Homo sapiens: one gene and its partners. The protein of the gene in region 2 purifies or fractionates together with the protein of the main gene of each other region. This does not show direct contact. Each region holds a gene or a part of one and is shown on either strand. Other genes may lie near its edges.

Region 1 (3,505 bases), 7.8 Mb from region 2:
TGTGGACAAGACAATCTTGAATGTCAACAAGGTACTTAAATGCAAAATGATTATCCTTTTAGACTTAATACAATGCACTAGCATTGTGGGTAGCCAGGCAAAAAATCTGAAGTATCACATAAATATATTTGATATTTCTGAAGTATCACATAGATATATTTGTGCTGAATTTAGATAAACACTTATTGAAATGGTTCATGTGGCCATAATTCTGCAATTAAGAACCAATGGATATGCCCAAGGCTAGATGGAGGCTATAATTGGAGTAAGACCAATATAAACTAATTGTGCAATTTTTCTTCCATCTCAATTCTTGGCATATCACTTTAGCTCAAAGATACTGACCACTGATTTTGGTTAACAATAGAAGAGGGGGCCAGAAAGTTTAGGTATAGAAATACACGTGTTCTTAATCACACAACCGTACCTGCTACCTGCAGAAAACCTACTGGCTTCTTTTTCTTTTTCTTTCCACTTCTTTCCCTTGCTGGAATTCCTTCGCAAAGGCGCCCTGTAATGATAGTAAGCAGTCAGAAAGGGGAAGCTGAAATTTTCTCTTTCAATCCTCCTTTTACAGAGGGCTTTCTTTTTACATCGTGAAGTGCTTACCCCAGATCCACAAACTTCCGCTTAATTTTTCCTCCTTGCACCGCCAATGAACTGGATGCCCTTAGTGATTTGGGATCTTTGGCATCATCTAGGATATACACATTTGTGAAAAAGATCAATTATTATTATTTTTAAAGTCACAATTCAAAAGTCAATGCATCTCTGAATCTAAGGGCTTTGCCTAAATTCCTAATTGTAAAATAAATAATCAATGCCTTCTTATACGACCTAGGAGACACAGTTACATTGAGGAACTCGCAGTTAAGCAGGGGAGGTCCTCTATAGGACAGAGGCTCAACATTCATCACAAAGAGTTTTAGCTTCAACTGCATGGGAATGAACAAGGGAGAATAAATACTCTCAAATCATCCTCTGCATTCGAAGTAGGGACCAACATGACTTTTGTTCCTTCTCTGGCTCCAAATTCTTGGCTTCAAGTGCCTGGGCTCTGTCCTCCATTCCTTTCTTGCCTTGGGGTTGTAGTGCCTTCTAACAGGAACATAGCCCACTTCTCCCGTATCTCCAAAGCCCAGCGCAGAATATCACCTCTGAGAGTCTGGGAGATTTAGGGGGAAAGTCAGAGTCAAAGTTTTCTTCTCTGGCTCTCCTTTGCTAATGGCCTGTGGCCGGTCCTGGAACAGAGGAGGGGAGGACATGGGGGAGACTCCTTAAACAGGGGCTCAGCTACAAAACATTTATATCTTTGAAAGGGCCTTCTTAATAGTTAGGTTACAGCAAAACTTGGCTGGTTCCCCTTAATGTGGAAGATGCCAAAATCTCCTCAGTGTTCAGAGCAGACTGATCTTTGCCTCTAGGACTCTCAAAGGTAGCAGCTGCTGGGGAATGGGGACCCTCGAAATGATACCAAAAGCCAATAGGAAGACAGGCTTTGCAAATGGAGTTCAATGTCAAGGTGGGAACCAATTCCACTGGTGGCACTTGTTCCATCTCGGACAGGCTCTACCCAAACTATTCAGCAGAGGGTACTGATCGGCATCACGTTTCAGCATATCCAATTAGCTCAGATGATTAACAAATGCTGTTTTAAATTTGATGTTTTTTATGTGTGAAACTCTTCCTCCCCAGTTCTTTTTTGGTATCTGTTTTTCTGTCTCTTATCTTTTAAAATGTGTTTTAAATTTCTAGGAACTTTCTAGTATGGAAGGCAAAGAGAATGGCCCTCTTAAAAAAGTGTTCAATTAACTTTGCAGGTTAATGTTGCTCATGATTTTTGTTTACTTCAAGAGAAATTTCTCAACACACATCGACATACACCTTTAAAAAACATGAAGTACACACACAGTTCATGGATAGCAGTCTAGGTTCAAAGCTCTCAAGCAGCACAGGACACTGACAAATACTCCAAATGTTTTTAGCAATGAGCTTTTCATATTTTTAGTTAATGATACTTAGATTACAATAAGCAACTCACTGAAATGTACATAATGAAACACAAGAGTCAGAAATATGTCTGTGTCAAAAATCCACTTCAAGCCTCAAATATTTATTATGCATATTTGCATCATTACTCTTTGGGTAACTGAATTGTCACAGATGTGACACAATCATATAAAAAAATCCATAGACATAGACATGGCACAAACACCTTCTAAGGTGATTTTACTAATGGATTTTATTTTTAAAAGCAAGATTTAAATTTTCTTAATAGAAGCTGAAGAAAAGAAAGTGCCAAATTCTTCCAGATCAATCCTAAAGCAACTCTTAATGGCTAGGACTATGCAAAGTTAAAAGGAGACTGCCTAATTATTTCCTGAATGAGAGGTAGCTGGGAGATGTTACAATGAGCGCTGAGAAGACCAGCTGAGGCAATGTACACGAAAACACTCTGTAACCCATGAGTGTTGCAGTTATTTGGACATCATGCGACTAAAAGCCTGATTCTGCCTATCACAGAGCTTGGTGCTAGGCAACCTTACATCTTTATCTCACACATTTGCCAAAGTGCGTTCCCAGGAACACTGAAATGAATGCTTCCATAGGGCTGAAGATGTTAAGAATAAGGAATAATGTACTTTCCCATTTAAAATCGATTAAATCCATCTTTAATGCACACTAGAACTTCTAGTCTGCATAAAATCCAACATTAGATTGGTATGATTTCAGGAAAAAAGAAACATACATTTTGTTTATTTAGCTCTACGTAAGACTTCTGTTAGGCTTTTTAAAATCTCTCCAATACTACCTTTGTGACCAATTATACATCTGAGCCCCCAGATTGGGTGCCTCAACTTTAAGCTGTGGCAACCTGGTTTTCATTTTCAAATAATAAATGATCTCCTGATGGCCAAATCCTAAGGTCTTGTACTGGACTGCATCTCCTTAATCTCACTGTAATAAGATACTTGACTATCTCTTCCTTTATAATGGGGACTCCCAAATCTACCTGGCAGTCCTGACCTCTCTCTTGCGCTCATGACCTCCTCTGTTAAAAAAATGAGTTAATCCTATTTCCCCCATCATGTTGCTGATTTCCTATTTTCTGTTAATGACAAGACCATATGTTCTGAGGCGTGAAGCCCATGATAGTTTTGCCTCACTTTCTTACCTGTTACCTAGTCAAGGTATGTCTCAAGGGTCCTTGAATCATTCTTTCCTGTCACTGTCTACTGCTCCTCTTTAGAGGGCACCACCTCATAGGGTCTCCTAACTCAGCTTCTCCATACCTGGTGGTGTCTTTTCCTTTTTATTCCTCTGGTCAAACTTCTTGTGGTTTCCTAGTAATATGGCAAGTTATCTAAGATGTTTAACTTCTAAAGCTATATACTTAACCTACTGGCTCACTTTTGTGTGTAACTACTCCACCCTGCATAAGCAAACTGCTACAGCCAGGCTGGGATAGCCTTGTACCTTTAAATCATATGATATGTGCCTGTCT
Region 2 (3,505 bases):
ATGGTTTCACATGGCCTTTGTTTTTAAAAGACTTGGAACCAACCCGAATGTCCAACAATGATAGACTGGATTAAGAAAATGTGGCACATATACACCATGGAATACTATGCAGCCATAAAAAATGATGAGTTCATGTCCTTTGTAGGGACATGGACAAAATTGGAAATCATCATTCTCAGTAAACTATCGCAAGAACAAAAAACCAAACACTGTATATTCTCACTCATAGGTGGGAATTGAACAATGAGAACACATGGACACAGGAAGGGGAACATCACACTCTGGGGACTGTTGTGGGGTGGGGGGAGGGGGGAGGGATAGCATTGGGAGATATACCTAATGCTAGATGACGAGTTAGTGGGTGCAGTGCACCAGCATGGCACAAGTATACATATGTAACTAACCTGCACATTGTGCACATGTACCCTAAAACTTAAGAATAATAATTAATAAATTAAAAAGAGGCATTCTATTTGAGTCTTGTTATTACTGACTTTTCAGTTATAAGTGATAAGAATGCTGATATTTTAGCTAGTCACCCATTAGATAACATTTATTTGCTTATTATTTATATCATTGCTGGGCATGGTGGCTCATTGCCTGTAATCCTAGTTACTTTGGGAGGCCAAAGTGAGAGGATTGCTTGAGGCCAGGAGTTCAAGACCAGCTTCAGCAATATAGTGAGACCCCCATCTCAATCAATCAACCGATCTATCAGTTTTTATCACTGTGCTTATTTATATGATTGTAAAACACTTTCACATTAAAAGATAACCTCAAAAATTCATGGTAGCTTACCAAAAGGGGCCATATTGTTATTTATTTAGTCTTGGTAACCAAACAGTTCCAAAATTTTTACTGTTTAAGTAGAAATGAGCTGAGCTTTGAGAGATTTTTTTGTTGTTGTTTTAAAGATTATATTTCTTTATTTCTTTTTTGTCGGGGGTGAAGATGGGGTCTAAGGGTCTCACTATATTGCCCAGGCTGGAGTGCAGTGGCTGTTCACAGGCACAATCATAGCTTACTACATCCTTGAACTTGAACATCCTTGAGATGGGAAGGCTCAAGAGATCCTCCCCCGCTCAGCTTCCCAAGTACCTAGGACTACAGGCCGACACCATCATGCCTGGCCATACTTCACTTACCAGTAATCATAATGAAGATCGTGTATTTAACAGATGTTAAGCTTACCAACTGTTCAGATGTGCATGTGAATTGGGGGTAGATTGTGAAGACATTTGCAATATTCTATCTCCCTGACATTATAATTGGGAAAAATTAGGTTTAAATAACCGTGTGATAGAAAACCTGTATCTCTGTGATAAGTTCTCTAAGAGTGGTACAAGACATTTGCAATATTCTCTCTATCTCCCTAACGATGTAATTGGAAAAATGAGGTTTAAATAACACTGTTCTATGATAGGTTCTCTAAGAGTGCTGCCAAGTGTTATAAGAGTTCAGAATGAGACCTTTAAAGTAGAATGAACGGAGAAGGTTTCCTGGAGTAGAGAGAATTTGAGCCAGGCCTGGAAGCTTAGGCAGGACTTTAACAGGAAGACATGGTGAGAGAACAGCATGCCTGAGAGAGAAAATTCATGCTTGCCAGTCTGAGATAAGCCAGTATCATCTTCTTTCAGGTGCAAGTTTTGAAACTGCTTTTGAATTTGTCTGAAAATCCAGCCATGACAGAAGGACTTCTCCGTGCCCAAGTAAATAGCTTATATATTTATTTTGTAAATATACACATATATACATTTGAACAGACAGACAGATCTGGAAAGATTAAGCCTAAAATGTTAACAGGGATTCTCTCTGAGGAGCAGTATTAAAGGTGGTTTTTTAAATTCATTTTGTATGTGTAAATTTCCTAAATTTTTTGCAATGAGCCTCTTTTACTTTTGAAAAACATTTTTAAAAATTCACCCTAGCAACAATAAATTATAACTTTTTTCTCTACCCAATTTTGGGTACAATTGTGCCATCCCATATTTTATACTTGAACTGTTTGTGTTTACATGTATCTTAGTATCCACTGAAACAGCAGTACTGAGTCCCCAGCATATGCTAGATGAGACACACCAGTGAGCACAGCGTGACATGGTACATGTCCTCACGAAGCTTACAGTCTAGTGGAGAGACAAAAATATATAACAAGTGAACAAGGTAATTAAAAGCTGTGATAAGTGTTCTGAATGCTGGGATAGAATGGAGCTCCACTCCTGTAGAAGAGGAACCATCGTATTCATCTGCTCATCCCTATTCCCCACCCAGCTCTGTGCCCTGTGGTGTATGGGCACTAAATGTTTGATGAAAAAATGAGTTCCCATGAAAACCGTATGATGATCTTAAAAAAGAAAATGGTTGTTTTTCCCAAATAACCACATTCTAAAATTCCAAGGAAATTGTATTTTTCCAGCTGAAACACTCCCTTTTTTCCATTAGTATTACAGCGTGGGGGTACATAAGGTTTTATACATCTAAGTTATGAAATTTTGGGTTTTCTGTGACAAAATTTTTTTAATGTGAGATACATTTTAAATGTGAATTTAAAAATTTTAAAATGTGAGTTATTCAATGTAGTTTTAAAATGTTAAAATATACATGAAAAAGTTTTCATATATTATTAATATAAAATAATACTCATTGTTTCATATTTCAGGTGGATTCATCATTCCTTTCCCTTTATGACAGCCACGTAGCAAAGGAGATTCTTCTTCGAGTACTTACGCTATTTCAGAATATAAAGAACTGCCTCAAAATAGAAGGCCATTTAGCTGTGCAGCCTACTTTCACTGAAGGTTCATTGTTTTTCCTGTTACATGGAGAAGAATGTGCCCAGAAAATAAGAGCTTTAGTTGATCACCATGATGCAGAGGTGAAGGAAAAGGTTGTAACAATAATACCCAAAATCTGATTGGTCATATTTTTCCAAAGAGTAATGCAGTCTGGATATAAACGTATTTTCTGTCTTCCTTATAAGGGGATTCTCCCAGCTGCTAAATTTAAACAGTAAATATCACATTTTGTCATTAACACAGCTATAACTTGCCGTGGTTCTCAGATTTATTTTGGACTATTTTGATGCCAAGTGAATATAAGAGCTTGTACTGAAACCATTTATTTCTTTCTATTTTGCTATTTGCAAATGCTTGTTATCTTCCCTACATGAAGTGGCAGTAACCTTTTTCACATTTAAGCTACCCTTCTACCTTTTGAAGTGATTTGCAGTTACTCATCTGAGACAGCATCAGTATTTGACTAAATCATTGTTTCACAACTGAATAGTCTTGTTCTTTTAGTAGCAACGAAATCCTAAGCTCTTGAGGCCATTCACCTGCCAACCTGACCATACTGCTTTCAAAAGTCTTTTCTCATCAGTAGAATCTATTTTGGTCACTTCTAGTCAATGAAAAATGTAAACTTTTAGGAGAGAATGTTTCTTAGGACTCACCCACTCCATTCAATGTTATATATAAAATAGTGTGATCAATCACAATGTCCATCT
Region 3 (3,505 bases), on a different chromosome or scaffold from region 2:
TGCAGTCACTCACGCTCAGCGAGGTGATGCGCGCGCTCAGGCTGGACCACAGCCCGGCCTCGGTGAAGTCGTTGCAGCCCGACAGCTCCAGACGCACCACGCCCTGCATCTGTTCAAGCATAACCTGCAGGCGGGCGGGCGCCGGGTCAGGATTGCAGGAGAAGGGGTGGAGCCCGCAGGGAGGAAGCAGTAGGGTGTAAACATGCAGGGAGCTGAACCCTGAAAACATTTGGCAGTGTGTGAGGAGGCGGGGCATCGGGACGAGAGCCCAGGGCCTGGCCAGGGCAGGTGCTGGGGGCGTTGGCACCAGCGTTACAATTAGACTCCAGACCCGGCTGCCAGGCGGCTCCTCTGACCTCTACTCCTGGGGGATCCTTTCCCAGCTGCCCCTCAGCTCCCCCTCGCATCCTCCCCACACTGCATTTGTATTTATTTATTTATTTATTTATTCATTCATTCATTCAATCATTTTGAGACAGAGCCTTACTCTGTTGCCCAGGTCCCAGGCTGGAGTGCAGTGGCATGATCTCAGCTCACTGTACCCCCCGCCTCCCGGGTTCAAGCGATTCTCCTGCCTCAGTGTCCTCCCAAGTAGCTGGGACTACAGGTGCCCACCACCAGGCCTGGCTAATTTCTGCATTTTTAATAGAAATAGAGTTTCACCATGTTGACCAGGCTGGTCATGAACGCCTAACCTCAAGTGAGTGGCCTGCCTCGGCCTCCCATAGTGCCGGGATGACAGGCTTGAGCCACCGGGCCTGGGCCCTGCATTTAATCCACTGCCCTGCTGCTGCCATCTTGAAAATCTTGAGTGTCTTTGAACAAGGGACCCACATTTTCGCTTTGCGCGAGGTCCCCTGTAGTCAGTCCTTCTTTCCTCCCACCCCAAAGCCACCATCCGCTCCCACCTCCATAGGGTTGCTGCTGCCCGCCCCTGCCCCCCAGCCCTGTCCCCCCCGAGCCTGGTGCACACCTCGAGGCCTGCGTCCGTGATGGTGGAGCGCTTGAGGCTCATGGCTTTGACACCCTTCTTGGAGAGCGCATAGTTGTCAATGAACTCACAGATGTCCAGGTCGGAGACGCCAACCAGGCAGAAGCCCTCGAAGCCTCTGGCGGCAAAACCCTGCAGGTTCACGAACTCCTTCTCGCCACCAGGCAGCACGTTGTAGAGCTCCTTGGCATGCAGCACCGGCGTGAGGCCTGCCCAGAACTTGGGCTGGTACAGCACGCGCCGCCAGGCCTTGCACACCTGGGCCAGCACACACTTCTCGCAGGCCGAGAAATACCAGAAGAGCCCATTGAGGATCTTCTCGTCCGTGGCCAGCGGCGGCCGCTCCGCTGGGTGCCCAGGTGCCAAGGCTGAGGCTGGTCCACCTGCCGGGGTGCACGGGCCCCCAGCCAGGGCAGCCCGGGACAGTGGAGCAGCCAGGCTGGGTGGTGGGAGGGTGGGTGGGGGTGGTGGCTGGCAGGGGCGGTTCTTGGTGGCTGGCGTGCCCTTGGTGATGCTGGCCGCACCCAGGCCGTTGGGCTGGCCCGGCAGCTTCACCAGACCGTTTCGAGGCAAGCATGGAGGCTTGGGGTCGCCGTCGATGCCCGGGCTCGACATCTTCCTGGCACGCTCTGTGGATGAGGGCCGGGAGGGGGAGTGAGTCTGTTGCTGAGTCTGGAAGGCCGGGGTTGGGGGCGGGTGCAGTGGGGCTCCTTCCCTCCTTGGGCGTCCCTATGGTGCTCCCAGAACCACCAGACAGAGAGGATGGGAGTGCCTGCTTCTCCCTCCCAGACTGTGAGCAGCAACAGGAAGCCAACCATGGCCACTGGCAGCACTCACTGGGCACCTACGGTATGCACTGAGCCCAACCTTCATTGCCCATGGACACCCTCTTTTTCTTTTGTTTTTTTTCTTTTTGAAACAGAGTTCCGGCCGGGCGCGGTGGCTCATGCCTGTAATCCCAGCACTTTGGGAGGCCGAGGCGGGTGGATCATGAGGTCAGGAGATCGAGACCATCCTGGCTAACACAGTGAAACACCATCTCTTCTAAAAATACAAAAAATTAGCTGGGCATGGTGGCAGGCGCCTGTAGTACCAGCTACTTGGGAGGCTGCAGCAGGAGAATGACGTGAACCCGGGAGGCGGAGCTTGCAGTGAGCCGAGATTGCGCCACTGCACTCCAGCCTGGGCAACTGAGCAAGACTCTGTCTCAAAAAAAAAAAAAAGAAACAGTTTCACTCTTGTTGCCTGGAGCGCAGACTGGAGTGCAGAGACAGGATCTTGGCTCCCCGCAACCTCTCTGCCTCGTAGGTTCAAGTGATTCTCCTGCCTCAGCCTCCCGTGTAGCTGGGAATTCGGGCGCCCACCACCACACCCGGCTAATTTTGTATTTTTAGTAGAGATGGGGTTTCTCCATGTTGGTCAGGCTGGTCTCAAACTCCTGACCTCAAGTGATCCACCCGCCTCAGCCTCCCAAAGTCCTGGGATTATGGGAATGAGCCACCGTGCCTGACCGGAAACCTTTTTGTTTGCCCAGTGAGGCGAAGAAACGCCGACACTTTTTAGCACTTAGGTACCATGATGGCCATTTTACAGAGAAGAAAATGGAGGTGGACCTGGTGAGGCCAGGACTGCTCTCTTGACCTCTCTGCTGTGCCGTCCACTGTAGGTACCCACCAGGCCCACCCCTCTGGGCAGGCCAGGGGAACTGAAGGGAAGGGTCTGGGGTGGCCTCTGGCCCCTCCCCTGCAGGGTGACTGCACAGCGCTCAGGAGGGGCTCTGGTGCTGACTCTGCAGCCACCCTCCACATGCACAGGAGCTTCCCTGGCTCAGAATCTACCCAAGGGGCTGGGTGCAGTGGCTGATGCCTGTAATTCTAGCACTTTGGGAGGCTGAGGTGGGTGGATTACAAGGTCAGGGGTTTGAGACCACCTGGCCAACATGGTGAAACCCCTTCTCTACTAAAAATACAAAAATTAGCCGGGCTTGGTGGCAGGCTCCTGTAATCCCAGCTACTTGGGAGGCTGAGGCAGGAGAATCACTTGAATCCAGGAGGCGGAGGTTGCAGCGAGCCGAGATCACACCACTGTACTCCAGCCTGGGGAACAGAGTGAGACTTTGTCTCAAAAAAAAAAAAAAAAAAAGAAAGAAAGAAAGAAAAAGAAAAAAAGAAAAGAAAAAGAAAAAAGAATCCATGCAAAGAAAGGGCGGGCATCTTCCCAGGGTGTGCTGTGGTGCCAGCATGGTTAGCCCTGGACACAAGCTGTCGCTTTAATCTTCTGCCCAATGAGAACGATGCTGTGATAGCTGTACCCACTGCACAGATGAGGAAACTGAGGCCAAGGCTGGGCAAACTGCCTGCCCGAGGTCATGGCCAGATAAGTGGTGAAGCCAAAGTTCGGGCAGAGCTGGCTGAGGAAGGCCATGCGGAGGTTATCTTCAGGCCAGCGACATCCACGCACAGGGTGGAGTGGGAGCAGTCCCGGGCACCCTCCTCAGGCCTCCAGTCTGTAAGT
Region 4 (3,505 bases), on a different chromosome or scaffold from region 2:
CCTAACATAGTAGACAAAATGTTCAATCAAAAATCATCTGTCATACCAAGAATCAAGTAAATCACAACTTGACTGAGAAAAGGCAACTACTGCCAACATTAAGATGAGTTCGATGTTGGAATTATCTGACAAGGATTTCAAAGTAGCCATCATAAAAATGCCTCAACAATCAATTAACATTATCTTAAAACAAATAAAGAAAAAAAAGGAAACTTGCAGAAAAGAAAAAGAAGTTATAAAAATATAAGAAAGAAGGAAATTCTGTCATTTGCTACAGCATGAATGAACCTGGGGGACATTATGCTAAGTGAAGCAAGCCAGACACAGAAAGACAAACACCACATAATCTCACTTATATGTGAGATCTAAAAGAGTTGAACTCAGAATTAGAGTAGAATGGTTACCAGGGACTGTGGCTTGGAGGGAGTGGGAAATGGGGAGAAGTTGACCAAAGGGTACAAAGTTCCAGTTAGACAAGAGGAATAAGTTTTTAAGACCTATTTTGCAGCATGCTCACCATAGTTGATAATAATGTATGTGCATTTCAAAACTGCTAAAAGCATAAGATTTTAGTCTACACATTGGGTACAGTGTACACTGTTCGGGTAATGGGGGCACCAAAATCTCAGAAATCACCACTAATGAACTTATCCACGTAACCAAACATCACCTGTTCCCCAAAAAAGTATTCAAAAAAATAATAGATTTTAAATGTTCCTGCTATGAAAAAAACAAAACGAAACAAAAGATAGGTAGGCCAGATGTGGTGGCTCATGCCTGTAATCCCGCCACTTTGGGAGGCCAAGGAAGGTGGATCACTTGAGCTCAGGATTTCGAGAAGAGCCTGGGCCACGTGGTGAAACCCTATTTCTACCAAAAATACACACACACACACACACACAAAATTAGCTGGGCATGGTGGCATGTGCCTGTGGTCCTAGCTACTCGGGATGCTGAGATGGGAGAATTGCTTAAGCCTGGGAGGCAGAGGTTGCCGTGAGCCGAGATCACACTACTGCACTCCAACCTGGGTGACAGAGTGAGACCCTGTCTGAAAACAAAACAAAACAGAACAAAAAACAAAAAAAAGGATAAATTACGTGAGGTGATGGATATGTTAATTAGCTCGATGTAATTATTCCACAGTGTATGCATATATTAAAATATCACATTGTATCCCATAAATATATGCAATAATTATTTGTTAATTAATTAAAATAAAAATTAAGTTAAAAACAAGAATTTAAAAAATACATACTTTGCAATTATCTACTATTTTTCTAAAGACCCTTACAATCTATAGGCTCTTTCTCAGTTTTCTTTTTTCCCCCTTGGAATTATTTTTTGAATAAAACTGGCTTGTTTGTCCCCTCCCCCCAAAAAACAAATATAAATTATAGAACTGTAAAATAAAATAACAAAAATGAAAAACTGGCTGATGGACTCAATAGAAGAGCAGAGATGACAGAAAATAGAATCCATATCTGGTGAAACTATCCTTCAGGAATTAAGGGGAAATAATTAAATTCTCAGTTGAAGGAAAACAAAAAGATTTGTTGCTAGCAGACATACTGTTAAAAAATAGCTAAAGGGATTTCTTCAAACAGAGAATAAATGATAAAGAGCAATCAGGAAGGATGAAAGGACAACAGAAAGAGCAGAAATGTAAGTACATAAAGTAGACTATCTTTTAACTCATGAGTTCTATAAATCATATTTGATAATTGAAGCAAAATTATAACACCATTTTATACTCTAGACAATGATATTTAAAAGTGGGGAAGGTAAAGGAAACTAAATGGAAGTGAGGTTTATACACTTCAATCAAAGTGGTAAAATATTGATATGAGTAGACTGTTATGACTCACACATGAATGTTGAATACCCAGAGAAACCACTGGGAAAACTCTACAAAGATATATATTTTAAAACACTATGAATAAGTCAAGATGGAATCATAAAAAATGCTCAAGTAACTATCAGAAAAGCAAGAAAAGGGAAACAGAAGAATAAGAACTAAAGGGAACAAACAAAAAACAAATAATAAAATAGCAAACAAGAATAATATATCAATAATTACATTAAATAATTATATTGAATGCGAATACCACTACAGTAGTCCCCTTTTATCTGTGGTTTTACTTTCTGAGGTTTCAGTTACCCATAGTACAGTATAATAAGATATTTTGTGAGAAAGAGTGTGAGTGTGTGAACACAATCACATAATTTTTACTCCAGTACATTGGTATAATTGTTCTATTTATTAGTAGTTATCATTGTTAATCTCTTACTGTGCCTAATTTATAAATTAAACTTTATCATAGGTTTGTGTGTATGGGGGAAAAATATATATAGTATACATAGAGTTCAGTACTATCCATGGTTTCAGGCATCCACTGGGGGTCTTGGAATATATCTCCCTGGAATAAGGGGGAACTACTCTATATGCTATTCACAAGAAACTCACATTAAATTTGATGACATAGGAAGATTGCAAGTAAAAATATAGAAAAAGATGTACCACATAAGTATTAATTTTTCAAAAATCTGGAGAAGCTTCATTAATATCTGATAAAATAGTCTTCAGAGCAAAGAAAGTTAAAAGAGATAAACAGAGACATTACCTAATGATAAATGGATCAATCCAGCAGGAGGATACAATGATCCTTAATGGGTACACACCAAACAACTATGTCTCAAAATTCATGAACAAAAACTGATCAAGCTAAAAGAAGAAAGAGACAAATCCACAATTATAGTTGGGAAATTCAATACCCCCTCTCAGAAATTGATAAATCTACTAGACAGAACATCAGTAAATATAGGGAAGATCTGAAAAAGACAGTCAATTAACAGGATCCAGTTGAATATTTTTACGATTTTATATTGGTTTTTCCATAGTGGTTTTAAATTATATCTCTTTGTATAGAAAACTCCACCCAACAACAGCAGAACACACTTTTTTTTGGCACCTACAGAACATTCACCAAGATAGATAATGTGCTTGGCCGTAAAACAAACCTAAACAAATTTAAAATAATTGAAATCATACAGAGTATATTCTCTGACTACAATGCAATGAAACTAGAAATCTGTAGCAGAAAAGTATCTAAACACGTGGAAATTAAACAACACTGTTCTAAATAATCCGTGGATCAAAGAGGAAATCTCAAAAGGAATTTTTTTAAAAATGCGTAGAACTGAATGCAAATGAAAACACAACATATTGAAATATGTACCATGTAGATAAAGCAATTCTGAGAGAGAAATTTCTAACACTAAATGTTTACATTGGAAATAAAGGAAGGTCTTAAGTCAATAACCTAAATTTCTACATCAAGGATCTAGAAAAGAAGACCAAAATAAACCCAAAGCAAGCAGAAGGAAGGGAATAATAAAGAGCTGAAATCAATGAATTTGAAATAGAAAAACTATAGGGAAAAATTAATAACACAAAAATTTGCTTTTCTGAAAAAAAAATCAGTAAAACTGACAAACTTCTAGC

What was found.
Region 1: the proteins of ARMC10 (region 2) and PPP1R9A purify together in Homo sapiens (affinity purification with mass spectrometry; one large-scale study listed by BioGRID and IntAct). This does not show direct contact.
Region 3: the proteins of ARMC10 (region 2) and FBXL16 purify together in Homo sapiens (co-immunoprecipitation; one large-scale study listed by IntAct). This does not show direct contact.
Region 4: the proteins of ARMC10 (region 2) and VSIG1 purify together in Homo sapiens (co-immunoprecipitation; one large-scale study listed by IntAct). This does not show direct contact.

Annotation. Positions count from the first base shown.
Region 1 is NC_000007.14:95,271,091-95,274,595, reverse strand, and holds part of PPP1R9A (neurabin-1), read right to left. Parts: intron 698-3,505; coding exon 610-697; intron 512-609; coding exon 428-511; intron 1-427. UniProt on the Homo sapiens protein: Binds to actin filaments (F-actin) and shows cross-linking activity. Binds along the sides of the F-actin. May be involved in neurite formation. Inhibits protein phosphatase 1-alpha activity.
Region 2 is NC_000007.14:103,095,640-103,099,144, forward strand, and holds part of ARMC10 (armadillo repeat-containing protein 10), read left to right. Parts: intron 1-1,637; coding exon 1,638-1,709; intron 1,710-2,659; coding exon 2,660-2,914; 3' UTR 2,915-3,505. UniProt on the Homo sapiens protein: May play a role in cell survival and cell growth. May suppress the transcriptional activity of p53/TP53.
Region 3 is NC_000016.10:695,800-699,304, forward strand, and holds part of FBXL16 (F-box/LRR-repeat protein 16), read right to left. Parts: intron 1,621-3,505; 5' UTR 1,607-1,620; coding exon 974-1,606; intron 125-973; coding exon 1-124. UniProt on the Homo sapiens protein: Substrate-recognition component of the SCF (SKP1-CUL1-F-box protein)-type E3 ubiquitin ligase complex.
Region 4 is NC_000023.11:108,051,562-108,055,066, forward strand, and holds part of VSIG1 (V-set and immunoglobulin domain-containing protein 1 isoform 2 precursor), read left to right. Parts: intron 1-3,505.